Homo sapiens: one gene and its partners. The protein of the gene in region 4 interacts with the protein of the main gene of each other region in a pairwise test. Each region holds a gene or a part of one and is shown on either strand. Other genes may lie near its edges. The genes, in order: UBA6, ZNF250, CDC7, HMBOX1, SAP30L, WT1 and SNRPB2.

Evidence for each region.
Region 1: the proteins of HMBOX1 (region 4) and UBA6 interact in binary tests that used the Homo sapiens proteins (3 or more experiments, as listed by UniProt).
Region 2: the proteins of HMBOX1 (region 4) and ZNF250 interact in binary tests that used the Homo sapiens proteins (3 or more experiments, as listed by UniProt).
Region 3: the proteins of HMBOX1 (region 4) and CDC7 interact in binary tests that used the Homo sapiens proteins (3 or more experiments, as listed by UniProt).
Region 5: the proteins of HMBOX1 (region 4) and SAP30L interact in binary tests that used the Homo sapiens proteins (3 or more experiments, as listed by UniProt).
Region 6: the proteins of HMBOX1 (region 4) and WT1 interact in binary tests that used the Homo sapiens proteins (3 or more experiments, as listed by UniProt).
Region 7: the proteins of HMBOX1 (region 4) and SNRPB2 interact in binary tests that used the Homo sapiens proteins (3 or more experiments, as listed by UniProt).

What each region holds. Positions count from the first base shown.
Region 1 is NC_000004.12:67,627,569-67,632,023, reverse strand, and holds part of UBA6 (ubiquitin-like modifier-activating enzyme 6), read left to right. Parts: intron 1-115; coding exon 116-167; intron 168-252; coding exon 253-316; intron 317-1,488; coding exon 1,489-1,558; intron 1,559-2,881; coding exon 2,882-2,953; intron 2,954-4,455. UniProt on the Homo sapiens protein: Activates ubiquitin by first adenylating its C-terminal glycine residue with ATP, and thereafter linking this residue to the side chain of a cysteine residue in E1, yielding a ubiquitin-E1 thioester and free AMP.
Region 2 is NC_000008.11:144,890,849-144,895,303, reverse strand, and holds part of ZNF250 (zinc finger protein 250), read left to right. Parts: intron 1-71; exon of another isoform or gene 72-161; intron 162-4,455. UniProt on the Homo sapiens protein: May be involved in transcriptional regulation.
Region 3 is NC_000001.11:91,506,775-91,511,229, reverse strand, and holds part of CDC7 (cell division cycle 7-related protein kinase), read right to left. Parts: intron 3,377-4,455; coding exon 3,293-3,376; intron 2,969-3,292; coding exon 2,833-2,968; intron 1-2,832. UniProt on the Homo sapiens protein: Kinase involved in initiation of DNA replication. Phosphorylates critical substrates that regulate the G1/S phase transition and initiation of DNA replication, such as MCM proteins and CLASPIN.
Region 4 is NC_000008.11:28,966,539-28,970,993, forward strand, and holds part of HMBOX1 (homeobox-containing protein 1), read left to right. Parts: intron 1-3,504; coding exon 3,505-3,981; intron 3,982-4,455. UniProt on the Homo sapiens protein: Binds directly to 5'-TTAGGG-3' repeats in telomeric DNA. Associates with the telomerase complex at sites of active telomere processing and positively regulates telomere elongation.
Region 5 is NC_000005.10:154,448,253-154,452,707, forward strand, and holds part of SAP30L (histone deacetylase complex subunit SAP30L), read left to right. Parts: intron 1-2,838; coding exon 2,839-2,961; intron 2,962-4,203; coding exon of another isoform or gene 4,204-4,221; exon of another isoform or gene 4,222-4,247; intron 4,248-4,455.
Region 6 is NC_000011.10:32,393,350-32,397,804, forward strand, and holds part of WT1 (Wilms tumor protein), read right to left. Parts: intron 3,059-4,455; coding exon 2,908-3,058; intron 1-2,907. UniProt on the Homo sapiens protein: Transcription factor that plays an important role in cellular development and cell survival. Recognizes and binds to the DNA sequence 5'-GCG(T/G)GGGCG-3'. Regulates the expression of numerous target genes, including EPO.
Region 7 is NC_000020.11:16,735,779-16,740,233, reverse strand, and holds part of SNRPB2 (U2 small nuclear ribonucleoprotein B''), read right to left. Parts: intron 2,974-4,455; coding exon 2,833-2,973; intron 1,383-2,832; coding exon 1,332-1,382; intron 1-1,331. UniProt on the Homo sapiens protein: Involved in pre-mRNA splicing as component of the spliceosome. Associated with sn-RNP U2, where it contributes to the binding of stem loop IV of U2 snRNA.

The DNA of each region.
Region 1 (4,455 bases), on a different chromosome or scaffold from region 4:
TTGATTTTTGAATCATGTGCATATATTTACTACACACATTTTTTAATTTTATTTTTTAATTTTTCCTCAGATAATATTAAGTAGTGGGTGTCTTTAATTCATTTTTTTTCTTTAGGCTCTTCAGCTTCTTCACTGTTTCCCTCTGGACATACGATTAAAAGATGGCAGTAAGTATAAATGTTGAGAATAAATTTTAATGACATTTATTACTGGCTACATACATTGAAAATGATATTTGTATCTTTTTGCCAGGTTTATTTTGGCAGTCACCAAAGAGGCCACCCTCTCCAATAAAATTTGATTTAAATGAGCCTTTGTAAGTATTTATATTTAGTTTTATGTATCCTTCATTATATATTTCTTTACTGTAAATTCCTTAACTGTACATTGCAGAGTGAAAACCTTAGGCTCTTTAATGTTAAATTATTTCATCCCTGTTCATTTAAGAGTTAACAAGTCATTCTGACCAAGAAAGCCAGCCACAACCCTTCCCACACAAATGTGAATCCATTCATTTACATGGTAAATAACCTCATTATTTATAATAAATATCTAAGGTGAAACCAAAATCACCTTTTTTACTTTATCCATAAATTAGTAAAATGACAATGTGTTTTTACATTTAATGAAATCAAATATAAGAATCTTCAGTTATATGGAGGAACAAATAATTACTACTGAATAACTCCCTAAATCTCAAATTATTTTCAGAGGAGTTGGTCTTTGTGTGAATACCTGGAAACACTATATTAGATACACATTAGATTCACACTTGTGTGTATATGTATATTTTTTCTATTTTTTTAATTTAGTTTTTATTCTTTGAAAGAGACAAGGTCTCACATATGTGGCCCAGCCTGGTCTTGAACTCCTAGGCTCAAGCAATCCTCGCACCTCAGCTTCCCAAGTAGCTGGGATTACAGGTGCATACCACCACACCCAACCTTATGTATATATATTTTTAAACACTTAGCTTGCATTCACTAACCTTCCTTTCAGCAGATAACTCTATGCTTAATTTTCTCATCTGGTGGTGGTTTTAGGCTTCCAGTCACCTTATGCTGGACTGCTTCTTCTATAAGACTTTCTTTTTTTGTTTTTAAATAAACACATTTACTTAGTTTGAACTTGATATATACTCATTAAGACCAAATGTATAATATTTCTTATGACTTAAAATGAATTATTGTTCACTGGTCTGAGTTTTCTGGTTCTGTCCACTCACTCCTCTTCCCAAGGTAGTCATGATCACTACCTGAATGTTAAGTGTTTTTGAGAATAACTGTTTGATGTTTTGTCTTTTATAACTTCTGTAGTGTTTTGGTGTAGACCAGAATATTTTTGTCTAACTTAAAAAAAAAAACTTGAAATAATAATTCTGTGGTTATATTTCTTCAAACTACATTTAAAGGCTATAGTTCATAATGAGTTAAATATCGTCTTTAAAACTGTACATTCAAATTTTGCTTTATTTTTTAATTTCAAAAGGCACCTCAGTTTCCTTCAGAATGCTGCAAAACTATATGCTACAGTATATTGTATTCCATTTGCAGAAGAGGTAAGATATTCTTTAAGCCTTAGCAAGTGATGCAAAACCAAATTAGAATTAGATGACTGATGCACTAATTGCATCAAAACATGTTTGTTTGTTATAAGAATCACTCTTTTTGATACAGAATTTTTATTGTATTTTTACCCATACTAACATAATGGAAGCTAAAAGCTCATTGCAGTATTGCTAAGTAGAAGTCGGATTTTTCCTTCTGAATTGAAGCAGTGAAACAGCATTATTTGTTAAAAGCAGTTAAACTTTGTTTTAAGAATATTTATAACCTGCTTAGCAGCTTCAGTTATCCTAGTTATTCTAAAAAGCCACAGCAAACCATTTCATCGCAATTTTGAAATACTGCGTAGAGATTTTCTTTGTTAACATTTGTTTGTTATTTTGTGATAATTTATGTGCTTTTCAGGAAATCTGAAAATGCTCCCTTATATTGACATTTCTTACTTTAGCATCATACTCATTCTCTTAAACATCATCTTCATTGACTAACATCTAAAGAGCCTCATACGGTTTTGAGAGGCATCTCTTTTCTTCACAAATGCATATTCTAGCTAAGTAAATTGCTGTACTTTTAGGTGGGCTAAATAGAGAAACATGAATCAGATCCCATAATTAACACTGGCTGTTTTGGATTCAGATAACAATATCTGTTTTAGATTAATCCTTTTTGGAATTCATACAAATAAACTGTAAATATTTGGTAAAAATAGTGGCATTCAGTCTGATATTCTTTTTGGGAAAATCAGTGGTAATTTAGTGGTGAGTGTGGTAATTGACCTCAAAAGCACTAAGTCTCAGCCTTTGCCAAGCAACTTCTCAATGACAAATGTAAATACAACCCATAGCTTTAAATTCATATAAGTTCATCTTTAACCATTTAAATATCTCCCTCCTTCTTAAGGTATGAATTCCATTTACTTATTTTACTTATTGAGTATAACTTACTTCAGGGAACTTTGTAAAACATTAAAAACATAAAACATAAAGCTAAGGGAATTAAAACTGACTGATCAAGTCACTCAGTTTTATATTTACAACCAGTCCTAAAAATGCCTTTTAAAAAATTTGCAGAAGGACTAAAATTTCAAGTTTGTTGACTAATAAGTACTTTTTTACCCCTTACCTTCTCCTCCCCCATAACCTTTATGGGGGGATATTTTTATAGAAATAAAGATAAATGTCTCAAATGGATGTCTACATATTCAGATAATGAAATATTCATATATTGTAATATGATTAAGGACCTTTTGTAGGATATTTTTAGCTTTAGAATTTAGAAGAATATGTTTGTTGGTAAAATTACTTTTTTAAAAACAGGACTTATCAGCAGATGCCCTCTTGAATATTCTTTCAGAAGTAAAGATTCAGGAATTCAAGCCTTCCAATAAGGTATGTTTAAAAAATCATTCATTCAGCAAATAGTTTGGGAATTTGGACTTGTACCAAGTCCCATTCTAAACCTGGAGAATATCACAATGAATGGTTCTTGCTCTTGCTCTTGTCAGTGCAACTTGAGTTTGAAGTAGATTTGTCAGAATCACAAACTGTTGATTAATACTAATTTTATTCTAGTGTGGAATTTTAAAAAAGATCAGTATAGACTTAGATTGTATGAGCTACTCAGTTAATATTTTTTTATGCCCACTATATCATTGTGGGTATTAAAAATTAGATATATTGGAGTTCTGTCAGTGAACAAGATACATAAAGATCCCCTGTTGTTATAGAGCTTACATGCCTTTGTGAGAAGATAGATAATAAAATACATACATGAATAACATAATAATACCTTCTGAAGGAATGTATAAAATACATTGGACCAATGTATTTTGGGCGGAGAGGGACTATAAACAAAAATGCTAATAAGTACATAATATTGCAGTGTGAGTGTAAGTGCTAAGAAGGAAAAATACAACAGGGAAAAGAAAGAGTGATGGAGCTGGTATAATTTTATATGGGATGGAAGTGAGGAAAACCTCTGATAACAGTAACATTTTAGCAGAAACCTGAAGGAAGTAAAGGAATAGTGAAAGAGCAATGTAGGCAGCAGAAATAAGTGCAGAGAAAGGCCTTGAAAAGCTTTTAAGGTCAGGACTCGTCTAGAAGAGAATATACAAGGGGAAGAGTCTTAAATGAGGAAATTACAGAGATAGTTGGGGCTATGATAAAGAAAGAATATTTTCTTAGTTGAAATAAGAAGCTAGCTTAGTAGCTCAGAGTGAAGGGGATAAGAAGATAAAGGAAGTAAGAGCAAAGAAAAGAAGGTATGAAATAATTGTCCAGTGAAGTGGAAGAGTCACTTAATTAAAAGATGTAGTAAAACGCAAGACAATACTGAAGATCCACTTAATGTTAATCTGCTTAATGTATCCTACTAAATGTGGCTGGAGAAAGGGTAATGATCTTTTCTCCAGCCAGAATTTAGCTGCTTGGGTGGTATTATACTGTATAATGGATGGAAAATTGGATATAACTAGGGTTGGGATTTTGCCAGGCAAATACATTGAAAAAAAAAAAAAAAAGCAATAGGGAGTATTGGTAAAGATGGAACATGAAATTTAGGCAATGTAAATAAAAAAGTTTGAAAACTTTTTTTTCTTTTTTACATGTTCAGTATATGCCTTTCTTGTATGTTCTCTAAAAATCATCCACAAAATTTAGCTATACCAGAAAAGGTGGAGTAATGACCACCTCCCTGCAAAATTCAAGAAAGAAGTGACGTGTGCAGTCTTTCGTTCTGCGTTTTTATTTTAGGAAAAAAAAAAAAGACTTGTAGGGCAGTTGATTTTGCCCAGGTAGATGGATTTGCAGAACACAATGTTTATGACTTATAGCCTATAAAGAATAAAAATAGGGTGAGGATAAACAGAAATCCCAAAGAAGGTTCCCAG
Region 2 (4,455 bases), about 120 Mb from region 4:
GCTGGCCCCATGCTGCATTTTCACTCACCCATCTGGTGACCTGACACAACATACATCTTTCTCTTTAGCAGGTGTGTAACTTGTATGTGGAAGGACCAACGTAGCATTTGCCTCAGCAACATCCTTGAATCTGCACCCTCACCCACATCCATTCTTATCAGGTACCCACTATCCAAGGGCCAGTCTGATTTGCCTAAATACTGCTAGGTCGCCTTCTTAAGAGTATGAGAAACTCCACTTTCCCATGCCTGCCAGTTTAAAGTGTTGACTCCGTACTTGGCTATTACAGATGGCATAAAGTGTGAGCTCATTCCTCTTCATTCATTTATTCAACAAACAGGCCGGGTGTGGTGTTCTCAGGCCTGTAATCTTGACACTTTCGGAGGCCAAGGAGGGAGGATCCCTTGAGCCTAGGAGTTCAAGACCAGTCTGGGCAACACAGCAAGACCTCGTCTCTACCAAAAAAAAAAAATTAAGAAATTATCCAGGCATGGTGGTGCAACCTGTATTCCTAGCTACTTGGGATGCTGAAGTGGGAGGATCACCTGAGCCCAGGAGTTGGAGGCTGCATTGAGCTGTGATTGAGCCACTGTACTCCAGCCTGGACTACAAAGTGAGACCCCGTCTCTAAGAAATTAATTAAAAGTTTAAAAAAGTACATTGCCTGGCAATTTGTAATCATTAGCCTAGAAGTAATTAAAAAAAAAAAAAAAAGGTCGACCACTGATTACTCTGTTGGGCCTGCTTCTTGGTCTGCTGGTGCAGGAGAAAGGGATAGGATGAGAGCTGGGTGAGGCCAGGGCTGCTGCGGTGGGTGGGGCAGAGGTCTCTAAGAGTTGGATGGGGAGCACAGGCCAAGGGATAAAGGGCTGCAGGGCTCTGAGGAAAATCACAAAGTTTGGGGCATGCCCATAGGAGCCAGTGGGGTCCTGGGAGGACCTTGGAGCAGAGGACAGTCACTGTGTTCTCACAGGAAGGTAGATGGAGGGGCTGGGCAGACAGACGGTGCTGGGAGTCTGTCTGCCCAGATGGGAGCTGCCGAACATCTAGGGGTGGTTGTCATGGGGCAGGGAGGGCGAGATGGGCAACATGGTCAGGTTCTGGATGTGCTTGGAAGGTGAATAGAAGTGTGGGAGTGAAGAAGGAAGGAGGCTGATGCACAGGCTCACAGACCAAGCTGGGGGTAGAAATGATGGTAGAGGGGGTGCTTGGTTTGGGATGTTAAATGTCTGAGATGCTATGAGACACCCATATTGAAAGGTTGAGTCAGAGGGAAGGGGGATCACGAGCTCAAGTGTACCAAAAGAGCTACTGGGCTCAACTGACTTTTCAGACTCACAGGACAACCATGCCTAGCAGCAGCTTCTCGGAAAAGCTGGCCAGCATCATCCAGCAGCCATCCAGGGAGTACTGAGGTGCATAAACACAAGATGCAGGTAGGAGGAGGAGTTAGCCTAGTCGAAAGCCTCGTGGTCATACAAGCCAGCACCTCCTGTGTCAAGAGAACTGGCTGCAAGACCTGCTAGGGAGGCCCTGAATGTACTTCCTGTGGTTGTTCATCATTGAGTCACAGCCCAGGTGTGATTGGTCCGTAGAGAGAATGACCATCCACCTCTGCCAGGTTTCCAGGGGACCAGAGCTGTGCATTCACCCAAGGTCAAATTCGCATGCAGGGCTAGGCGCAGTGACTCAAGCCTGTAATTCCAGCACTCTAGGAGGCCAAGAGGGGCATATCACTTGAGCTCAGGGGTTCGAGACCAGCCTGGGCAACATGGTGAAACCCCGTACCTACAAAAAGTACAAAAATTAGCCGGGCATGGAGGCAGGTGTCTGTAGTCCCAGCTACTCAGGAGGCTAAGGTAGGAGGATCGCTTGAGCCTGGGAGACGGAGGTTGCAGTGAGCCTAGATCATGCCACTGCACTCCAGCCTGGGTGACAGAGCGAGATTCTGTTTCAAAATAAAGAAATGGCAGATCTGTGCGCTGGTGGGTGACCCATGGAAAGGGTCAGGGTGTGGCAGGAGAGAAGGCACTTCTGCCCTTGAGGGTAGGCAGATGTCAGACAGGGGGACCAGGAGCACATGAGGCCACTGTTAATGCTCACACTTGGTCTTCATCTTAATCCAAAATTGGTTATTGTTGGGCTGGGCGTGGTGGCTCATGCCTGTAATCCCAGCACTTTGGGAGGCCAAGGCGGGTGGATCACCTGAGGTCGGGAGTTCGAGACCAGCCTGACCAAGATGGTGAAAACCCATCTCTACTAAAAATATTTAAAAAATTAGCCGAGCGTGCTGGTGGGTGCTTGTAATCCCAGCTACTCGGGAGGCTGAGGCAGGAGAATTGCTTGAACCTGGGAGGCAGGGGTTGCGGTGAGCCAAGATCACCCCATTGCATCCCAGCCTGGGTGACAGAGCAAGACTTCGTCTCAAAAAAAAAAAAAAATTGGTGGCTGGACACGGTGGCTCACGCCTGTAATCCCAGCACTTTGGGAGGCCAAGGCGGGCGGATCACCTGAGGTCGGGAGTTCAAGACCAGCCTGACCAACATGGAGAAACCCTGTCCCTACTAAAAATACAAAAAAAATTAGCTGGGCATGGTGGCGCATGCCTGTAATCCCAGCTACTTGGGAGGCTGAGACAGGAGAATCACTTGAACCCAGGAGGTGGAGGTTGCGGTGAGCCGAGATCTCGCCGTTGCATTCCAGCCTGGGCAACAAGAGTGAAACTCTGTCTCAAAAAAAAAAACAAACAAAAAAATTGGTTATTGATGTATCCCATCTGGGTACACACAAGTTACTAAAGGAACCACTGATTTCCTGCTGAACTAAAATGTAACATTTTTGTTATCTTCCAATTTCCCACATACCTGTCTGGCTTCATCTGTTCCTCTGTCAACAACTTGTTGGTTTAATTGCAGCGGCTTCCTACCCACCCTTGGCTCTGATTCCTGGCAAGGCAGTCCCCACCCTCTGTTCTTTCCAGTTAAATTCTTGGCTATTCTCTAGCATCCATTCTTCTTATGAATTCTCAAGTAGTTGTAGTCATTCCTTTAAAAGACTTCTGTTGGAATTCTAATTAGAGTTGCATTGCGCTAACACAGAAGTGTGCTCACACACACATTTGGAGGGAATGGGCATTTTTGGAGAACAGCAGCACGGGGGAGGGTTGAAAGTCAGTCTCTCTCCAACTGTGTTTCCCTGTCCTGTTCTTCAGAGGCAGGCAGTTAGTTTATTGTGTATCTTCCTGAAAGTTGTCTGTGCAAATATATACATGTATCTGATGTGTGTTTTTTTTGTTTTGTTTTGAGACAGAGTCTCAGCTGAGATGATCTCAGCTCACTGCAACCTCCACATCCTGGGTTCAAGTGATTCTCCTGCCTTAGCCTCCTGAGTAGTTGGGATTACAGGCACCCGCCACCACACCCAGCTGATTTTTGTTTTTGTTTTTGTTTTGAGATGGAGTTTTGCTCTTGGTTGCCCAGGCTGGAGTGCAATGGCATGATCTCGGCTCATCGCATCCTCCACCTCCTGAGTTCAAGCAATTCTCTTGCCTCAGCCTCCTGAGTAGCTGGGACTACAGGCGTGCACCACCACACCCGGCTAATTTTGTGTTTTTAGTAGAGACGGGGTTTCCCCATGTTGGTCATGGCTGGTCTCGAACTCCCAACCTCGGGTGATCCGCCTGCCTCGGCCTCCCAAAGTGCTGGGATTACAGGCATAAGCCACTGCACCCGGCCTGATTTTTGTATTTTTAGTAGAGACGGGGTTTCACCATGTTGGCCAGGCTGGTCTCAAACTCCTGACCTCCGGTGATGTGCCTGCCTCACCCTCCCAAAGTGCTGAGATTACAGGTATGAGCCACCGCGCCCACCTATATCTGATGTTTTATAGACACTGAGATTATGATGTCCCTTGACTTCTGCCCCCAGCCCTGACACCTATTTTGTCACTCTTAAAGCACCCTGTTTGTTGTGGTGCCCATCTGAGCCAAGCATGTGAGGGGATTGGTTGCTTTGTTATACCACGTTTTTCTGGAGTGATCTACCACCTTTGGTCACCTGGTTGGTTTCTGTATCCCTGTCACAGTATCTTCTTTTTGATGCTCCAGAAGACTGCGAACCCTATCCTGTACAGGACCAAATGTGTCAGGAAAGCTCTTGCCCCGCTCCCCCTTTTTCCCAGCTGTTTGGGTGTGTGTCAGATACCTTTGCTTACCTTGTCCTGTTACGTTCCAGCACCAGCCCCACTACCCCAAGCATCCCCTTCTCACTTGATGACAAGTCTTCCTTCAGCTGCTCAGACCAGATCCCTAGGCCACTGTTGACTCAGTTTGTCCAGAACTGACCACTTCCATGCCTCCCCTTCAAATACCTGGTTGAACCTGGTGCCACATTGGGGCACTAGGGCTGCCTAAGGGTGGGGTGAGGGGAGTCTTATTGTCACCCTGGTGGCCAAGGC
Region 3 (4,455 bases), on a different chromosome or scaffold from region 4:
AGGCATTTTGCTCCAGATATATGTTCTTAATCACTATGTTACACTGCTTCATAAAAGAGGAAAATAGGACAAAGGTGATTTCTATGATTTTGAGCCTGAGTAAGAAAACAATAGAGATACCAAAAAATGAGTAGAGAAGCCAGTAAAAGAAGCATCTAAAACCAGACCTCATCATTTTGATAGAGTTATCTAGACAAGGGACTAAGCCTTAAGTGAGAAGACAAGTGAGAAGTCAGTGAGAGTACCTGCAGAGAAGTGATACCTACAGACATGAAAATTAATAGCGAGAAAAGAAAACTGAGCTTGGAAGAAGCCAAGTTAGAGAGCCAAATAAGAAAGGAATTTTGAAGGAAGAGTTATTAGCATGGAAGTCAAAGAGAATAACAACTGAGGGAAGGCTTTTAGTTAGGCAAAGAATAATTAACTGGTAATTTTTAAGACAGCAATTTAAGTGGAAAGGAAGAAACAAAACAGAAGGAAGGAAAATATAACACAATGGAAGCTGAGCCTGAAGACAATTTGCCTGACTGCATTGTAAGATCAGATGAAGGCATTTTTAGCATGTACTTTTTTAAGCACAGAAAAAGAAAAAGTGGTAGAGGGAGACAGTTAAAAATATAGAAAAAGAAATGATCATATTTAGGGTACAAGAATGTATGCAAGCATTCTTTATAGAGGCCATCTCATTTTCTTGTCTTCTATAATACACAGAAGGCTGAAACAAACAGGCTTATTCATTCATTCAGTATTTAGTTGGCACTGTTATTTGCTGTTAGGGATTATAGACATTAGTGATGCAATAGTGAATAAAATTTACAGAATTTCTGTCCTCATGGAGTTTACTATCTAGTGGACAATACAGATAATAACAAGGTAACTTATAATGACAGAATACGATAAGGGCTTTGAAAGAAATCTAAAGATGCTATGACAATAAAAAAAAATAGGAGAATCTAATTTAATTCAGAGAAGACATCTTTCAAGCAATGTCACTCTTTTTTTTTTTTCTCAGAGGCAGGGTCTTGTTTTGTTGACCAGGCTGGATGGAGTGCAATGGAGTGATCGCAGGTCATTACAGCCTCAAACTCCTGGGCTCAAGCGATCCTCCTACCTCAGCCTCCCAAGTAGCTGGGACTACAGATGTGTGCCACCTTGCCTGGATAATTTTTAAGTTTTTTGTAAAGATGGGTTCTTGCTAGGTTGCCCAGGCAGGTCTCAAACTCCTGGCCTCAAGCAATCCTCCCAAAGTGCTGGGATTACAAGCATGAACTACTGCGTCCAGTTTCACTCTTGCTCAGATCAGAAGATGAAGGGTCAGCAAGCAATGACTGGGAGAGGTCTTCCTGAATGGGGAAACAGTCTGGGCAGTGGCCCTGAGGTAAGAAAGCTCTTGAGACAAATTTGATAAACTAAAGAAATGGAGCACAGTGAGGGAGGTGGGAAGATAGGCATGAGAAGGTTGAATTTTTTTTTCAAAGTACATAGGGAAACCACTGAAAGATTTTAAGTGGTGGAACTAATGACCCAATTTAAGTTATATACATATATATTTTATATTTTAAAGATCATTCTGGCTGCTGTGTAAAGACAGAATTAAGGGGAGAAGGAAGAAGCAGGCTACAGTCGTAGTCTAGGCTTCATCTGAGGTAGTGGCAGAGAAGACAGAAAGACATGGATGAACTTCTAGATATACTTTAGAGCCAAAATGGCTAGGACTTAGTGATTAATGTGGTTTAGGAGAGAAATAGAGAAAATGAGGATGATTTCTAGGTTTCTGGCCCAAACAAGTGTGTAGATGGGCCATTTGCAGAGACGGGTGGATAAGAACATTTGTTGTGGTGTTTTTTTTTTTTTTTTTGGTATGTTAAGGTTTAGGTTTGTCTTTTAGGTTTGAGATATTTATCAGGCACCAAGTGGAAATGTTAAATAGGCAGGTGGATATACACAAACCTGTAGTTAAGATAAAAGGTCTGAGATTAACTATATACTTTTGGGAATCATTACTTTAGATCATGTGGAAATGGAGGACACTAAGAATACAGAGAAACCTAAGAGCAAGCACGAGGAACTCCAATATTTAGGGGTCAGATAGAAGTGGAAGAGCTAGCAAAGACACTGAAAATGAAAGGCCAAATGAGGGAAGAAGAAAACAAGGAGGGTGTGGCAGGACAGAAGTCAAGACAAGGGTTCACGTCAATTGTGTTAAATGATGCCTAGAGTAATGATTGACTCTATAGTTTCCAGTTTAGCATAGAGAAGAACAGCCGCAATAGGTATTTAGTGAAAGAGAGGTGTGGAATGAAAACAATGTATGCAGATAATTTTTGAGAAGTCTGGCTGTAAGGGGGAACAAAGAAATGATGGAGCAGGTGGAAGAAGGAGGGCAGTTTAGGAGGGTAAGATTCTAAATCATGTCCATATGTTGACAGAAATGACCTAGCAGAGAGAAACCATACCAGATGATTCTGTTATTCTAAATAAAATATTAGATGAGGTCGTCAATAGCTGGGGAAATGTGAAATGTGAGTTCCCTACATTTACAAAATAATGTAAACCATGAAAGCCAAGGTTTATGATTTGGCAGGAAGGTTACAAAAAGCAGTGATAAAAGACAGGAAATCAGGTCGAGCCTCAAGGGAAATCCAATCTAAAAGAATTACTATAAATTTAACTAACTATTGCAAGGTTAGAAGGAAAGTGCTAGCAAATTGCAAACACTTGACTGAAAAATGTATTTAATTCACATATAATCCCCTCATCCCTGCTAAATATCTACTTTAAAATCTTATAAATTATATACAAGTTCAATTAAAATATGTTTAAATTGCCTACCCAGCCACTGTTAGGCACTGAAGTTCAGCTGCAATTCTTATAGGATGACTTGTTGGAATCAAGTGTTTTAGAGCAATTTTCTCTTCAGGTCCTACTTGTAACTGTGCTGTGGCCAAATAAACAGAGCTGAAAGTGCCTGTAAAACAATTTATTAAATTTTTCAATATCTGGTTTTTAAAAATGTTAATGAAACAATTCTAAGATAGATTGTAAAAACTGTTTCAATGGCATAATACATTAAAACAGGACTTCATTTTACAGTAAATATTTATTATTTATTCTTTCTTTAAGGTTGAAAAAGAAAAGCTGTTACCATAATTAGTAATAAAACTATGGTCTTAATAGTCTAAAAAGTGGTATATTTTTCAATAAGAAATAGTAATGAAAACCAAGACTAAAAAAGGAAAATAGAATGGAAAAAAGACCTCGTAAAAATAGTAAAAGCATATCCCCAGATTACCTTCTCCAATTTTGTCCTCAATCTTAAACACATTACTAAGCTGTGGTACAGCTTCATAAAGCTTCTCAATATCTTTTTTAACACCTTTCAAGGAAACAAAAATTTAGAGTTTTAATCAATGACAGTATATTTTACAGTTTCTTAAAATTTAAAAAGCTCAATGAAATAAATTATAAAATATGAGTAATTAATTATACATAAGTTTTAATAACATTGTGATAAGATTAAAACCCATCAAGTTGCTATAACTCACACACACCTCTTGAACAGACAAAAATGACAGTCCCAGAATTAAATACACCAAATTTCTACTATACTGGAATTATATACTAAGAGATACATTGTTACTGTAGAGATTACAACATGAAAAAGCACCAAATTTTTAAAATAACTAAACAATTTGTGCTGTGATCACTAGATGGCATGACAAGGACACATTGCGATGTTCTTGAAAACTATTTCCCGTAAAGATACAAAATCTTAAAGGCTTGGTAAAATTTTATGTATTAAATATTCACACTATATTTTCAGAGAGAAGGCCTACTAAAGCTCTCAAGCATGTAAAAAAGTATTTTTAAAAATTTGTCCCAATTGCCAGTAGTATCCTCTATCCTTGACTGCAGATAAATTGCTACTTTTAAATAAGTATCAGTTCTTTATAAAAATGTACATAGTTAAAACAAGGGGAGGCAATAATACAAAACCCAGTAAACTACTGGATACAGAAGAGAACTAGATAAGTCTTCAGATTTTATTACAGTATCTAGGCTCTACTAGCCCTATATAGCATAAGTTTAAGACATTTTCAAAGCACCGGCACATGCAGTATCTTTTGAGGTCTTCCTAACAGTACTGTGAACTTGGCAGAGCAGGAATGATTATCCTGATTTTTCAGATAAGGAAACTCAATTCAGGGAGGTTAAATCATTTGCCCAATTTCACAGAGGTGTTGCTGATTATATATATTTTCTAATTTTCTTTCTTTTTTGAGATGGAGTCTCACTCTGTTGCCCAGGTTGGAGTGCAGTGATGTAATCTCCACTCACTGCAACCTCTGCCTCCTGCGTTCAAGAGATTCTCATGCCTCAGCCTCATGGGCAGCTGGAATTACAGGCACGCAACACCACGCCCAGCTAATTTTTGTGTTTTTAGTAGAGACGGGG
Region 4 (4,455 bases):
AGATGACCTTTGTAGGTCATTTACTGCCATAAATTCGTGATTATATGCTTAAACTAGGTAAATTATGAGAAATAAAATTGTGAAATGCCGGAGTATATGCCTTTGTTTATATTAATACACATTGGAACATTATTCTCAATATCCAGGAGAGCTTCTAGACTCAGCGTTTTCTCAGTAAAATATTGTATCTTCAGTGTCACATGCATGCTTTGATCCTGTTTGTTATGCTCTTAATCACTTTGCTTTGTAGTGATCATATGAATGATCATTCTAGCAATTGTGGATCATTTTGCTTTAGGTTATATTTGCATTAGGAAACTCTCAGTGCAGGGCACAGACATCTAATTTGAACAAGGTGATACATAAAGGGAAATGTATTCTCTGATGAAACAAAACAGCAAGAAGAGCAGGGATATATCAGGGGCTTAGGGATTATTGGAACAAGGGATGTGAGTGCTGCAGAGCTTTCTCCATCGCTCTGTTCCACGTTTCTTGGTATGTCTGCTTCTTCCTCCCATGAACTAGCTGCTTCCATATAATGAGGAATTTACCAGACTAATATCTTCCTGCAACTGAACACAGTTATGGTGACTGTTCATCTTTCCCCTCGTCTGACTAGAAAATTATGGGGAGAGCAAGGTTTGGCTTTCTTCTGTGCTCACCCCACTGGCCAGAAGGTGGGGTATTACGAGTGATAGCCCAAGAACATGTGCTTGGAAAGAATGAGGTGTTCTAAGCAGACAAAGTAAATAGGTGGCCTATTGTTTCTCCTTTTATGACTTGGAATAAAAGTGGTTCTAATAGTCAATGAATCTGAAATGACACAAAATATTAGATTGTTTCATATGCTGTGAAATCTTTAGTTTTGACAATTCTAATTCAAGTGTTAGGATGGATACTTTTCAGTAATAAGTGAAATTCATACAATTTACTTTTGCTTTATGCTAATACAGAGTGCTGCTCCATACAAGGAATGGTTTGAAGAACTGTATATAGATAACTAACTGCTCTGATATGAATACTATAGGAAAATACTATGATTGGGGATTTTTGTCCATATAATAAAACAGTTATTGAAGTCATCTAAAGTAAGATCACTTTATGAAATACTTTGATAACATGAAGACTGAAAATAGCAACAAACAGGTCTACTTCATTTTCAAGGGAAAATAATAATGTTTATGTTTAATTTTTTTCATTACAAAATATTGTGGGGGAACTTAGGCCATCAAGAAAGAATATAATAATCATGAAAATAGGTCTTTTTAAAATCATGGCTAACTTGTTACAAGTGAGTATTGGAAGAAATCAGACCCTAACATTTGTAGGTGTAGAGCAGATACTGTGGCCCATGGGCACAAATGGCCTGCAACATGTTTAGGTCCACAGAATGTGTGTGTTTGGTTTTGTTTTATTTTTATGAGCTTGTTTTAAAAACCAGGAAGATTTCATCTACAGTTCTAGATTTTTCCCTACTTATTTTTAAAAGGATTTGAAAGATAAAACAATCAGTGAAATGGAATAGACTATCCAAAGGTAATGCAGATTCATATGGAAATTGTGTATATGATAAAGGCAGCATTTCACATCGGAGGAGAAGACAGATATTCAGTAAAAACATACGACATCTAGCTGTCCATTTGGGATGAAATAAAGCCCCAATTTTTTATACTTGTTAAGTCAATAAAAATTCTAGATGGAGCAAGGATTTTAAATGTAGAAAACTATTACTAGGACCCCTAGGTTCATCAGTAATTAGAATAGTTTTATCTAAATGGCTTTAAATGAGACTTAAAGGAGTAGAATAGCCTGTGTGCCAAATCATATGTTTCCAGTTAAGTCCTGCAATGTATTGTAAAGGAGAATGATGTGTGCTTTTGGAGTCAATAAGATCTAGGCTTAAATCTTTTTCCTACTGTTTACTCAGATTTTTTGTGAAGTACAAAACTACACTGAGCTTTAGTTTCCTCAACAATCAATCCATCAACATAAAATGAAATGAATAAAGAACATCTACCATGGGGAGTTGCTGTGAGAATTGGATGAGATTATGTTATGTGAAATTCGTACCCAGTTCCTGCCTAGAAGTGACTGTTAATAAAGTTTTCATGTAGAAGGACAAAGAAACAGTGAGACCTTCAATAGCTATAGGACACTGGCCCAGAGCAGATGTTTGTTTGAGAAAGATGAAGAAATTTCTTGACATCTGTTTCCATCTGCAAACACTTATTGAGAGCCTACTGCATGCCATGCATTATATTTGGCACTAGAACAATAAATATCAAAATAGAAGAGATTACAACTTTAAAAAATCTTGAATGGAAAACTCAGGTCTTATAAGAAAGGAATTCAAGGCCGAGCATGGTGGCTCACACCTGTAATCCCAGCACTTTGGGAGGCCGAGGCGGGCGAATCACCTGAGGTCAGGAGTTTGAGATCAGCCTGGCCAACATGTTGAAACCCCATCTCTACTAAAAATATAAAAGTAGCCAGGCTTGGTGGCAGGTGCCTGTAATCCCAGCTACTCAGGAGGTTGAGGCAGGAGAATCGCTTGCACCCAGGAGGTGGAGGTTGCAGTGAGCCAAGACTGCGCCACTGCACTCCAGCCTGGTTGACAAGAGCAAAACTCTGTATCCAAAACAACAACAACAACAACAACAAAGGGATTCAAGCAGTGAGAATTTTTATAGTATTTGACTACTCCCTTAATATTGTTACTCACCCTAAGAAAACATTTTCTGATGTGCTGTAGTATCTTGTGCTAGTTAAAGGAAACATGTAAAAGTAATTTCCTAAGAAAAATGAATAGCATTGTTTGGCTACAACCATGAAAGATCTATTTCTCAGGGTAGCTATTAAGAGAGAATGCATTACCAGAGATGGAAAACTTAGGAAATTGCTAAGTAGTGAATGAAATGGTGCTTATTTTTTTTTTTAATGTACCTCTGTTTTCCACTTAAGTATTTTTGCTGGTTATTAGCATTTGCTTGGACTTAGCTTAGCAAATCATTTGTTCTCACTAAATGAGGTTGTAGAGAATTCCTAGGTCTGTTTAGCTAATATTTGGTAAATAATATAATACAAACTATTTTTTTCAGTAATTTTCCATTAATACTCTAATGTAGAGTAATACACTTGAGATGGGCAAAACACTTCTGAGTTATCACGTAGCCTGGGCTTATTGCACTCCATGTACCTAATCTATTGTTCTGGTATTATTTACATAACTAAAATTTTGGTTCTGATATTTACCAAAATTGAGGAAAATGTAAATTGTATGCCATATGAAATTAGGTTTTATGTTACACCTATGTTCACCTACTAATACATTTAGTATCTGTACCAATCCATTTGCCATGGCACAATCATTCTAGCATGGGACATACCTTCATTTTCAATACAGAAGCTTATGTAGAAATATTGCATCTTCTGAGCATTCTGTATAATATGTGCTTTGGTAGATACTGTCAATAAAGAGACTTCTTTTTATCTCTTTTTTTTTAGTTTGCTGGAAACCATGTCTCATTATACAGATGAACCCAGATTTACCATAGAGCAGATAGATCTGCTTCAGCGACTTCGGCGTACTGGAATGACTAAACATGAAATTCTCCATGCCTTGGAAACTTTGGACCGTCTTGATCAAGAGCATAGTGACAAGTTTGGAAGAAGGTCCAGCTATGGAGGAAGTTCATATGGGAATAGTACTAACAATGTCCCAGCATCTTCCTCTACAGCTACAGCTTCCACACAGACGCAGCATTCGGGAATGTCCCCGTCACCTAGCAACAGTTATGATACTTCCCCACAGCCTTGCACTACCAATCAAAATGGGAGGGAGAATAATGAGCGATTATCTACATCCAATGGAAAGATGTCACCAACTCGCTACCATGCAAACAGCATGGGTCAGAGGTCATACAGTTTTGAAGCCTCAGAAGAGGACCTAGATGTAGATGATAAAGTGGAAGAATTAATGAGGTTAGTGACTTTGCTTATTCAGAGTCCCTAAAAATGTCTGTATTCTTAGATTGTTTTTAAGTAGTATGCTGCGTTTCAGCTACTTAGCTATAAGAACTGTAACTTCCTCTAGCTATAAGAACTGTAACTTCCTCCTCCCACCTTTGGAGATGAAAGAAAGAAAGTTCAAGCTTTATGTTTTTAATTTAAATTTTCTCTTCTTTACTTCAGCCCTTTCTCTTTGCTGCTTGACAAGCCTTTTCCATTCTGTTTATCAAACACTAATCTTCTCTATGACTCTAATAGCTAATTTCTGACTAACAGACACATTCTAATCCTTAAAAATCTGTTGTAAGTACTTTTTCTGAGGGATAATTTTATCTTGATCAGAATATGTACACTCTTAATTTTTCTGTTCAACATTCCAATCAAGAAAATAATTTGGGGTACCTATTATATAGGTTCTAATTTTAGCAATAGATGACACACACACAC
Region 5 (4,455 bases), on a different chromosome or scaffold from region 4:
GGCGTGAGCCACTGCGCCCAGCCCCTGTCCTTTCTTCAGACTCTTCCCTCCTACCCCCATTTTTAAGTTAATCATTATAATACAGTTGCAGCTCTTGCATGGACAGGTGCTATTTTTAAGTGGTTGGGAGAGAGTTAATGGCTTTCTTACTACAAATCTCTATCAATGAATGCATGAATGGAAATATCTGAGAACAAACAAGGGTCTAGACACCAAGGTGATCCCTCCTTAGGTCACACGTTGAGGTGAAATGCTTATGGCAATGAATTCATCCACTTAGAAACACTGCCTACCTTCCGTGTAGGTTGTTAGAAGCTGCTTTACTTGAGCAGCTTATAATAATAATTTCCAGTCCTTAAAAGAATCTTCCAGTCCTTTTAGATCACTGGATGCCTTCCCATCTGAATGATTTTGCTGCTGCAACTGGGACTCCTTTTATTTACCCATTGACTGTACTGGAAAACCTGTGTTGAGCTATGCTGATCATTTCACACACACTGTCTAGAAGAAGGGCAGCCTGAGCCTAGCATTAGTGTTCCCAAAATGTAATACTTCTGAGGTAGTAAGGTTTCCAGGTGGAATCACTCAAAATTTGTTTTAAGGTGGTGTTGTGGAGTCATTATTTCTGAAAGGGATTCTATTTCTTTCTCACAGGCTTGGGCAGGAATTCAATTCCAGGTAACTGGTATGTTACAAGAATTTTTAGCTATTGCAGAAAGTGAAGGAAAAAAAAAAACTAGAGCCTTTGCTACCACCCTCCTGCCCCAACCCCACTCCCAAAGGCCACTGAGCTCTGAAATTTCTGAAAACCAGTATGTACTTGAAAATGGTTAAGGAGAAAATGATTATTTATCTTGTAAGAGAGTCTAGCAGAGAACCTTTTTAAATAACAACACCAGAAATTCAATTCAGGCTGTTTAACTCATTTTATATAGACTTTGGCAGTGTTCTGTGATCTGTTAAAATACTAATATACCTCCAGTTGACATATTTCTGCTTTTTTTTTCCTGGAGAAAAGTGGAAGTTGAGAATAGTATAAAGGAAAATGCTGGAGTAGGAAAAGACATGTACTGGGGGGGCAGAAGGCCTGGGTGACCTTGGCCAGGTCATTTCCTCACTCTGGATGGCTTCATTTTACCCATTTAGAAAACGGATTGGGGTCAATGGGATTGCACTAGTGATTGCTAAGTTCTCTTACAGCTAGGATTCCGTTATTCTATTGTCCTGATCTGAAATCTCCCAGCCAAAGCTTTAGGAAGCCACCTATTCTCCCTGTTCTCCTATGAAGTTTGTTACTGTGAACTTGAGGAGCAGTTGATCTGAGTGGACTCGCCAGTCTAGCTAACATGGAGGGCTAGCTTCCTCTCAGGGATGCAGAGTGTGCTTTGTTGTGCTTTCTTCCTGGAGAAAAGCATGTCCAGTAGTATATACATCAGCTAGGTGGGATTCTTTGGGACAGTGGCATGTGCTGTGTTTGAAAGTCCTTTGACAGAGTTGAATCTGACAAAGCTATCCCAGTTTGTAACCATGTTAAGTGGTGGCTTTCATTAGCCTTAAGCCACTTTTAGATATAGGAGACTTCCTATATTGGTACATCAACATTTTTCGAGTACCTCCTGTCTGCAAGACACCATCACAGTATAAACTTAAAAGTACTTATGACTCACTAATCCAGCCACATGAAAGTGATCATTCATCTGAATAAATAAATAAACAGTTTTCATTATTTTCTCCATGAAAAGGTCTGAATTAATTGATGCGGATTTCCTGCCAGCTTACTTTTATCTTTAAGGATTTAAGGAATAAACTCAAATTCAGAAGTCTCTGCAGAACATTTGTGCAACAGCTGTTTCAGTATCAACAACCCCAAGTCATTTGCTGGGCATTCAGTTTCTGTAAAGTTTTTCAGTGGTTCCTCCAGCCAGCCTTGGAGGATTCTTCATGTCTTAGCTGTTGCTGCCACCTTCACTTACCAGTGTGCCTCCAGCCTGTATTAGAAAATCTGTAGTATCCACCTTCTTGTATGTGGTTCTACCTTGTAAGAACTTCCACATCTTTTTCCACTTTTCTTTGTGGATCAGATGTGAGATAATGCAAGAATTATAAATTGACACATAGAAACAAAGTTTTTCAAAGAGTTATTATCCTACAATAGTAGCTATTGTAATTGTAAAAATAGAGTGTCCCAAATACCGTTGCAACAGTCCCTTGTGTCCTGCTTTCCTCCTCCCCAGGACAGTACATTCCAGTCGACTATAAGTTTATGACTCCTACAGGTCTTCTAAAAATGTCACATCACTTCCTGCTTCCTTGAGGGACTCTGTCTTGTCGGAAGGAAAGTCTAAGCTGTTCTCATGCCCACCCCCCTGATGCCTCACTTTTTCATTATGCTCCTACATGGGCAGCCATCATCACCCAACTGACACTGTACCCTGGGCCTCCTCACTCTTTCTGTCATCCTCCATTGGAAACTCTAAAGTCTTGGCACTCCTACCCATCTGGAATGCTTCCTGTCTGCCTAAAGTCCTCCCTTTTAGTCAGGGCCCTTCACCCTGAGCATCTCTGTTGCAGGGATCTCTTCCTTTGCTGAATCTGTACCATTTACTGTCTTCACCATTCACTGGAAGTTTGGTGTATGATACGCTGCCAAGTGTGATGTTAGCATTCTCTTTGTGTTCTGCAACTCAGTAGTGAGCTTCTGGGAATGATGGCCTACATCTTGTCTTCCATCTATCTCTCCAATGCCCTGCAATGGAAGGAAGCCCCGCAATTCGACAGATACCTATTGCTGTCTCCAAGGAATTGGCCAACTCTGACTTTGATTTTTGTCTCCATCAGGTAAGGCACCTATATATCTGTGATTTTCACAAAAATTTCATCCAGAGTGTCCGAAATAAAAGGAAGAGGAAGACAAGTGACGATGGCGGAGATTCTCCCGAGCACGACACTGACATTCCTGAGGTAAAGGTCAAAGAAACCAGTTGCGGAAGCTGGAAGAATGGATTCTAATCTGATTCTCACCTCTGGCCTGGTCTGCTTTTTGTGTTAAGAAGTAATTTTAGTCCTTTTGTTTTGCTGTGGATTATTTGAAAAGTGAATTATAGTAATATGGAATCTGAGAGCTAAAAGCTTGGACACCCACTGGTCAGACTGCCCCATCATTTTACAGACAGGCACAGAGAGCCGAGGTCATGTATATAGTTTGGAGGCTCTAGTCTAGGGCCCTTTCCAGTAGACCACACTGCTTTTCTGCAAGACGCCCCTGACGAATGCGTAAATACAACCACAGTGTCACTTTTTTTTAAACCTTGTTTATGCCTTTAGAGAGTGTATAATGGTTTGGGAGAAGTCTTTTCCCCAAAAAATGAAGGTGTAAGTCATCAGTTCATACCAGCTCTGATTTTCTCTCACTGATTTCTTGACATCTAGTCCAGGCTGTTCCCAAGGATCCATTTCAAAGTTGACTAAACTGGACCCGGTTTTCTCAACTCTAGCACTGTTGACATTTGGGGTCAGCTAATTTTTGTTGTGGGGACTGTCCTCTGCATTGTAGGATATTTAACAGCATGCCTCAGCAGCATCCCCTCGTGAGATTCTACCCATCACCACCCTGAGTCATGACAATCAAAACGTGTCTCCAGACATTGCCACACCTCCTTTACAAGACAAAATCGTCCTGTGTTGAGAACCACTGCGCTAGACCATGAGACCTAGGCTTCTCAAACTGGAAGGCTGCCTTCCCTTCAGGTGCCCGTGTCTATTAAGTGAGGCTTCAGGAAGGAATATTGGATTTTCTTTCTACTAAATTGTTTTCACTCAAGACTCAGCAAGAGAAGAACCGTTTATAGTGTACATTGAATATTTGACACATGAATATTTCATAAGGCAACCGCCTGTTAGCACTCAGAGTGAAAATGACTGTGTAGGAATAGAAAGAGTAGGCGGGCCTTTGTCTGCAGATGTGGAGGAAACCGTTGAAAATCTGGCCCTTTCCCTCTGCCCCTCCCTGTGTCCCCTTTTCCAATGTTGGTTTACAGAATCTTGCTTTTGCCTTTAACGTTATTGTTATTTTACAAAGAAATGGACGTATTCGATTTCTAAGTGGTTTTCACCAAAAAAAAAAAAAAAAAGGTTTTGAGGAATGTTTTGAAAAAGAATGAAGGACTTTGGCCCCTCATATTGATCATTCATTTTGTTTTTAAGTGCTCTCCACCTGCCTGAAGCAAGAACAGCTCTTTTAGAGGCAGGTAAAGGCAGCCCAACTTTATGGGCCTTCAATTTTTCATGACTATGCAGCTTTCCTCTCTTCCTTTGTTAGAAACAAAAAGGGGGGGTCCCTTCCCCTCTGTTATCCAGTCATCTGCAAAGACCCCAGCCCTAACCTGCTGGATTGCACATTCACTACAGTAACTTTTGAACTTTCTCTGGAGGGAGGTTAAGGATTCTAATACCAGA
Region 6 (4,455 bases), on a different chromosome or scaffold from region 4:
AAGAGAAGTCAGTAGTGGGATTACCCAACCTCCTGTCTCAGAATGGAGAAGCCTCACCCCTGTCCTCACTAGAGAAAGTTCAGCCAAATACTGGGACCTGAGCCCCAAGAGAAGTGAGCAACCCCAGGCCTTCCCACCTTCTTAGGAGAATCCTGAGTCACAGGCATCTGGGATGGAAACAAGCCATTCTAGAATCAGTCAGGTCTTTCTGTTGCAAAGGCAGCCCCCTGTTACCTTTCCAATCTCAAAGCCTGGGCTATTTCCCTCATGAATCTCTATTCCCCACTATGCCAGAGCTCACATCCTGAAGTCCTCCTTGCACTCTGCTCACACTAAATGTCCCCCATCCCTATCTCCACATCGAAAAGTCTCCTGGGTGTCTCCTTCTTCTGCAATGCCTGCTTGGAAACTGCATGGGCCAATTTCCCTTCCTTCCCTCATTACGACATTTATTCCAGGCTGTCTAATGTGGTGAGCTGTGTCTGGGTCTACAATTCTACAATTCTTCAATGGGTTGGAAAATCCTAAGGGCTGGAGCCTTTTTATTTTTATTTTTTCTCAGAGACAGAGTCTCTCTCTGTTGCCCAGACTAAAGCGCAGTGGTGTGAGCCTAGCTCACTGCAGCCTCGAAACCGTGGGCACAAGCAATCCTCCTACCTCAGCCTCCTGAGTAGCTGGGACTACAGGCATACACCAGCACACTTGGCTAAATTTTTAAAAATATTTTTTTTAGAGACAGGGTCTCACTATATTGCCCAGGCTGGTCTTGAACCCCTTAAGCAATCCTCCCGCCTACGCCTCCCAACATACTGGGATTACAGGTGTGAGCCACTGCACCTGGCCCCTTTCTTTGTATTTGTATCCAGGTTGGTGCCTTATGTTTCACCTCTGTGAGCTGGAGAAGATGTTACCCCTATTGAGTCTGATTTCCTTCCCCTGCCTTTGAGCTTCTGCTCATCTATCACTTTCTCTGCCCAAACTACCAGCCTCCACTGGCTAACCCAAGCTGTTCTTCCTCTGAGAAACTTTCTCGGATGACCTTAGTTCAAACTGATACCCTCCAAACCCCTCGGTACCTCCTGTCTCTGATTTAGTACATGATCATGTACTCTCTCAGTCACTTTTCATTTCTTTATATCCTAGCTCCCAAACAAACCAGGAACTCTTTGAGAAGGAGGATTATAACCTGCAGTTAAAAAGAAGGAGTTTGAGTCCTCTTTCTGCTATATCCTATACTCTTCATAAATGTTTTGTGAGTGAGGATTAAATGAAATATACATGTAGAGAGCCTGACACCCAAAAAGTACTTAATATAACAGTCTGTACTGTTGTTATAAATAAATAAGAAAATATTGCTCTCTTTCAAGGGGGACTGTAGGATTGTTAAATACCAACCTGCCCTCATCTTCTGCAAGGAAGAGTTTCTTAAAGGCTCCAGTGGGTCTGGGGTTTTGGCTGTCTTGTTCACTGCCTTCCCTTCACACAGTTGTCTAACCCTCACTGCATTCTAAGTGCTTCTCTCTCACTAAAAGTTTCTACAACCATATTGCCTTCATTTATTCCCTTGCATTTTTCAGGCAGGACTTTACTTTCTCGTTTTCCTTATAACCTTGACAGTCACTTTTCAAATGATCCCATTTGGGGAAATGTGTAAAAACATAACATGCCACTGGTCCCCTCCTTTTTAGCCTCAAAGTCTGTGGCCCACTGAGTGCAAACTCAGATTGACACCAGAATTGCATCCTCTGGACACAGTGAATTAGCAAATTTCAATGGTCCAAGGAAATCTGAATGCAGCTCACTTTTTTCTCCAGCTTCCCAAGAGCAAAATCAGCAGTAATAACACAGTTGCAACAGTGATCCTATAATAATGCTGTTCTTCGATTGTGGAAAAGGCAGCAGTAGCTCCTCTGTAGGAAAACCTGGGTTTTACCACACTCCCACACTCCCACCTAGTGCCCACAAGGCCCAGAGTAAACGTTCTGTGACATGGCTGTCCACATTCAAGGTGGCCAACACCAAACAATGCCAGTTCTCTGTTTCCCAGAAGCAGCCTCTCTGACCTGGGGGAAAATCCAGTTTCATTGGCGTATCTTCAAAGATAAAAAATCATCATCTCTCTCTCTCCTTTTTTTTTTTTTTGGCAGAGTCTTGCTCTGTCGCCCAGGCTGGAGTACAGTGGTAAGATCTCAGCTCACTGCAACCTCTGCCTCCTAGGTTCAAGCAATTCTCCTGCCCCAGCCTCCCAAGTACAGGTGCGTGCCACCACACCCGGCTCATTTTTGTATTTTTAGTAGAGACGGGGTTTCACCTTGTTGGCCAGGCTGGTCTCCAACTCCTGACCTTGGGTGATCCACCCACTTCGGCCTCCCAAAGTGCTGGGATTACAGGCGTGAGCCCCCATGACTGACCTTTTTTTTTTAAGTGATCACTAAAAAATCAAACTAACAATCAATTTTCCCCTTCCTGTCTAGTTGATTATTACTGACCCAAGCAGGTAAGTTTTTCTTTGGACCATCTCTTCTAAAATTTCACAATGATCTTGCCCATCGACCTCCTAAAACCATCTGATGACTATATTCCCAGGCCAGCTCCTCTCTCCTTAGAAATGCTAATAGTATTCTAACACCAACACGATTCCTACACAGGTCTCTTTAATTCTGTGGCACTTTCTCTCTACCACTCTGCTCTGCCTTTCTGGAAGACAGTTTACTGACCTCTGTAATAAAGGATAGATAATCAGAATGCAAAATGGCCCCACAGCCTCTTTACAACACCTGGATCAGACCTTTCAAAGCAGTGCTTACTTTCCATCCTGGAAATAACCTGGGTCCTTAGCAGTGTGAGAGCCTGGAAAAGGAGCTCTTGAACCATGTTTGCCCAAGACTGGACAGCGGGCACACTTACCAGTGTGCTTCCTGCTGTGCATCTGTAAGTGGGACAGCTTAAAATATCTCTTATTGCAGCCTGGGTAAGCACACATGAAGGGGCGTTTCTCACTGGTCTCAGATGCCGACCGTACAAGAGTCGGGGCTACTCCAGGCACACGTCGCACATCCTGCAGGCAGAGAGTAAGAGGAAGGGAGGCTTTAAGCCACATGTGAACATTCACGTAGGTCTTGAGGGAGAGTGAGCACTGGAGTATATCCAAAGAAGGGGTGGCAGGTGCAGACCTAAAACCACTCCCATTCACACTCCAGATCCCCATGGCAGACATCAGTAATGGATGCTAGATCAGGACATTCTACAATGCAGTGCTCTAAGATCATCACTACTGAGCAACCAGAAGTGGCTGTTGAGATGAAACCTACATGAAATGGCTGTCCCAGAGCCTCTGCAAAAGAAATGCTGGTACCTGGAAGAGCTCCCAATCCATTCTATCTCTCAGCTTCTCCTCTTGAGGTAGTGATGTCTGCAAGTCCAAAGTCCCAAAGTCTAACTACTCCCTCCCACTTGGAGTCATGACCACATGACCTAGAGCCAGTCTGCAATGGGTGGGGACATCCTTATTAGAAAAAAGTGGGATAATGAATGAGCCCCTAACTGACCAGATCGTCCAAGTATAAGTAAATAACAAGGAAGAAGAAGCCCCTGGATTTGGGGATCCCATCTGTGAAAGGAAGCAAAACCCACCAGAAGGCCATGGTGAAGCCAGCACAACCTTTAATAGTGAGGCCAGAAAGCACTGGAATCCATCTGCCTTCTGTGCTCTGCACACGTCCTTTGCAGGGCATCTGTTGCTCCCCTTTATCTTGTGGAAGTGCAGTGTGTGTGTTGTCAGTCTTCCAAGAATAAGAACTGGAGGAAAACAAAGAGGCAAGCTCCCCTTCCTCTTCTTGGGGTCAGGGAGTCATAAATGGGAGCTGAGCAAGTGCCTGAGTGGCCACTAAATTCTCCTCATTCCTTTATAGATGAGTAAATCAACCCCAAAGGCGGTGAGATGCTGACACAAGAGTGCATCCATGTTTTGGTTTTGTTTGTTCTTAAGACAGGATCTTATTCTGTTGTCCAGGCTGGAGTGCAGTGGCACGATCGGGGCTCCTGCAGCCTCGACCTCACCAGCTTAAGTAATCCTCCCACTTCAGCCTCCTGAACAGCTGGGACAACAGGTGAGAGTCATCATGCCCAGCTAATTTTTTTTTTTTTTTTTGGTAGAGATAGGGTCTCCCTATGTTGCTCAGGCTGGTCTCAAACTCTTGAGCTGAAGGGATCCTTCCACCTTGGCCTCCTAGAGTGCTGGGATTACAGGTGTGAGCCACCATGCCTGGCCTAAAGTGCATCCATGTTTTGTGCTAAGACCTGGAACCACTTCTGAATATAACCAACTCCTTGCCCTGTGCATTTTCCACTCTACCCCATGCTTATGTTCTAGTCCCTATTTCACATTGCCCTGCACTGAAAGGTCATTTTCTTTTTTGGAAGAATAAATGCTGCAGTGACATACAACACAACATT
Region 7 (4,455 bases), on a different chromosome or scaffold from region 4:
CTGAAAAACAATGACACTGGAGAAATAAATCAAAACCTTACAGTAACTAAGCAAGGCAGACATTCAAGTAAAGACACTGAAAGTCTGGAAAATTACAAATCTCTTAAGTGTTTAACAGTATATGAAACAATTATGTTTTAAGCTTCTGGAGGTGAGTCGTGATTGGAGAATTTTGTCACCTGGATAACATAATCAAAGATCTTAATAAAATTAGAGATGGCCAGCAATGTCACCCCTCCGTAGCTGGTTACCACACTCAGTATCACTCAGATACTCAATTCCTCTGTACTGTTACTACTTCCCAGCATACTAAAAAAAAAAAAAAAAATTGGAACTAGAAAGATTACCACCGAGAACCACTGCTTAGGGACTTTTAATTTACTTATTTTTGGCAAATAAATGAGATATACACAGCATCTAGTTACATACAAACAAGCAGTAACAAACACTTAGTTTATTAGATATTACTCATTTGATATCCCACCCAGAGGTTATGGGGAACTAAAGAAAGGGTCTTCTATATAAGAAAAGAGCTCTGTCTTCCTGCTACTGTCATAAAAGAGAAAAGAGCAAGTATAAAAAATAATTAGTGAACAACTCAAGGCTTAGAGGATTAAGTGCTGGCATTTGTGAACTGGACTATAAATGCTGAGGAGATAAAAAACCCAAGTAACTTAAAACAAGAGGAGAAAAACCTCAGTGGTACAGAGAATTCTATGGATTTAAGGATCTTGCCAGACCCCGCCATCTGGAAAAAAAAAAGTATGAAACCATCAGCACATTACTGAGGCCTTCTCTTTGAGGTATGTCATGGGGAGATTTAATACGGAGTTTCTAAAACATTTGTACAAGGAGGCTTAAAAAAAAAAGGCTGGAATTTATTTGTGTTCAGGAAGTGAGAGCAAAGGTTAACTATAAAACTATGTGCCCAAAGAGTGTAACACTGTAGTGTTTCAACCAACTGGAATGGAAGAGAGCCCCTGACCCTGCCAGTTACCCTTACCCATGCAACTGTGTAAAGCTTTAGGTACTGTAGAGGAAACCAAAATGTTTGCTCCCAGCCCTTAGAGTTTAAAGTCTGTCATTTTGATTCTGTCATTGATTCATTATGGAAAACAAGAAATAAAGTCAGGTGTCGTTTTCTCTCTCTAAAAAAGAATTAAAATGTTCTTCAGGAGTTGAGTTCTTACATTGCAGTGGCAGACAATTTAACGCACTGTGTCTTGTAGATGAAATCATTTTGTTTTTGGAGACATGGAAATTGTTTTATACCACTGCTGTAATTTTTACAATCTTATTTTAAGGTAAGCACGACATGGAAAAAAAATTACCTGAGGATTTGGTGTTGAATTTCCTTGGGTATTAGCTGAATTTGGAGTTCCCTAAGCAAAATAAATAGGGAGAGTTTAAATATCCAATCCCTCCAAAAACGCAGCAGGTATTTATATTTATAATTACTGCATTAAAAATAACATTAATTCCAAGAGATATCCTTCTTACTCCATTTAATTTTACTTTAAGAATTTATATCTTAACACTGACTCAAACACTCATGTTCTTAATTTGTCGGTTATTTTTGTTAAGACCAGCCCTAAACTTTAAATAGTATATTATAAAATTTAACCTCTTAGCTTTAAAATTATGGAGAAATATATAAGAGAAAACCAAGGCCTAGTCTTACTTTTAAAAACAACTGGACATAAGTCATTTAATAAAACTGACTTTTAATCACTTTCAATCCAGAAGTAATTACTTTTTGGTGAATTTCACTTTTTTTTTTTTTTTTTTTTGAGATGGAGTCTTGCTCTTGTCACCCAGGCTGGAGTGCAATGGCATAATCTTGCCTCAATGCAACCTCTGCCTCCCAGGTTCAACCAATTCTCCTGCTTCAAGCCTCCTGAGTAGCTGGGATTACAGGCATCCACCACCACGGCCAGGTAATTTTTTGTATTTTTAGTAGAGACGGGGTATCACCATGTTGGCCAGGCTGGTCTTGAACTCCTGACCTCAGGTGATCCACCCACCTCAGCCTCCCAAAGTGCTGGGATTATAGGCATGAGCCACCATGGCGCCAAGCAGTTCATTTCACTTTTATCTGGTATTTCAAATTATATTTTGCATTACTGAATTGTTCAAAGAAAGACACTGTTTTTTTTGTTTGTTTTTTGGGTTTTTTTTTTTCTTTTTTTTTTTTTGAGACAGAGTCTCACTCTGTTGCCCAGGCTGGAGTTCAGTGGCACAATCTCGGCTCACTGCAAGCTCCACCTCCCAGGTTCATGCTATTCTCCTGCCTCAGCCCCCAGAGTAGCTGGGACTACAGGCACCCACCACCAAGCCCAGCTAAATTTTTTTTGTATTTTTAGTAGAGACGGGGTTTCACCGTGTTAGCCAGGATGGTCTCGATCTCCTGACTTCGTGATCCTCCTGCCTCGGCCTCCCAAAGTGCTGGAATTACAGGCAAGAGCCACTGCGCCCAGCCAGAAAGATACTTTGAGTGAAGTACTCATGATTAAAGATAATAACTACAGTATTATTTATAGGCAGCAAAACTTGAGAAATAAACCAAAAGGTATTAACATATTTTAAACAATGATCGAATTAAATGCCATGCAAATATAAAACTGCTTAATATAAATCTCCATGTTAAGGTTTATATTTTGTTTCTTAATACTGAATTTTATAAGTCAACCATTCTAGCTTCTTAAAACCACCTTTTAAACACACATTTATGCACATATACAGACAAGCCTAAGATCATTCCTTACCTGTAAGACAAGCATCTATCAAGTTTTTAACACCAATACAAACAGGAACTTTCTTGGTCTTTCTTACCTGGCCAGGCTTTTTGTTTGTGGTTGTTGCAGTCTGTTCCACAGTTTTGGCTTTTTTCTTTTCTTTTTTCTTTTCTTTGTCAGCAAAAGTTCCACGCATTTTTGATATTATATCCGAATCTGTTTTTGCATACTGTATTCGCTGTTTTAATTATTTGAAAACAGGTTACTTCTCATGCTGAAGGATGTTTACACTAGTCATTAATATTTCAAATTTCATTACGCAAATACACTACAAGCTAATTTTAAACATATCCCTAAGAAAATCTGTCAGAATATACTGAGTGCCAAATGGAAGTAAACTGTGGGCTATAATTCATAATTTAGACAAAGTTAGATTCAAGTGTGTTTATTAGATTAAAAAAACATATATTTTCATGTGAGAAACACAGGACTTTGAAATATCTGTACCACGGCTTCTCTCCATTTAATCAAAGAATAGAGAAAACTGCATTGAAGTGTTAAAGGAACAAATGAGTGGGCTCCACCAGCGGGCTTTGGAATCCTGAACTGTTCAAATCTCCTCAGTGCCTGAGGATCTGGCTCAAGATCAGCTATTCTAATCCAGAGGTATTCAACAAACAACATATAAAACAAACAAAAGCAAAACTGCTCAGCTTGACATAGAACTGTGGCTCCAGAGCCCACTGGAGGCCAAATGCCCTTTCCTCTCCAAACCTACCCTCACCCCACAGTCACAGAGGGAGCACCTAGGGATGCAATTTGAGGGAGCTGGTGAAAAATAAAGAAAATCGCCATTCTAGACTAATCCTGTTTTACAGATAGAATAGGCCCACAGAACACTAGGGCTGGTTTGGCAGAGTCCCCACAGAACAACTTTTCTGGCAGAAAACTAGATGGAAAATTTCTTTTAAACCATTTTTAATGAGTTTATTTGAATTTTTTTTCATTTTTTAGAATTCTAAACATCATAAATGTGAGGATTTAAATAAAACTTTTTTGCATCGTAACTTTTTGGATGTACAGCTCTGAGTTGTAACATTTGTAAAGATTAATGTATCTACCACCACAATCAGGACACAGGGCAGTTCTATCACCTAAAAATCCCCTCATGCTTCCCCTTTGTTACCCCACCCCTCCTCTTCCAAACACTCATCTGTTCTCTGTCCCTGCTGCCCTTTCCAGAATGTCACATAGATAGGATCATACATGATATAACCTGGAGGCTGCCTTCCTTTACTTGGCATAATGTCTTTGAGATTCATCTATGCCGTTGCTTTTAACAGCGAGTAGTATTTCATCGTATTGATGTACCAATTTGATTTACATCATTCAATGAAGGATACTTGGTTTGTTTACAGTTTTTGGCGATTAGGAATAAAGCTGCTATAAGCACGTGTGTTTAAAAAAACAGACACACACAGAACAAAAACAACAACAACAAAAATGCATTGGAGAGTTGCCTTCCCCTTACCAGTGACTCTCAATAGAAGCATTGACATGTGTCGCAGCTGTGGAATGTGTCATATGGAATGTTACTTCCAATAGTTAAAAGTACAGAAGACTGGGAATGACTTTCCTTTGAATCTATCACCTTTACATGAAATGACTTTAACAGTGGAATCAACTTACTAAATTTTAAAATGTTTTAAAAGGAAACAAA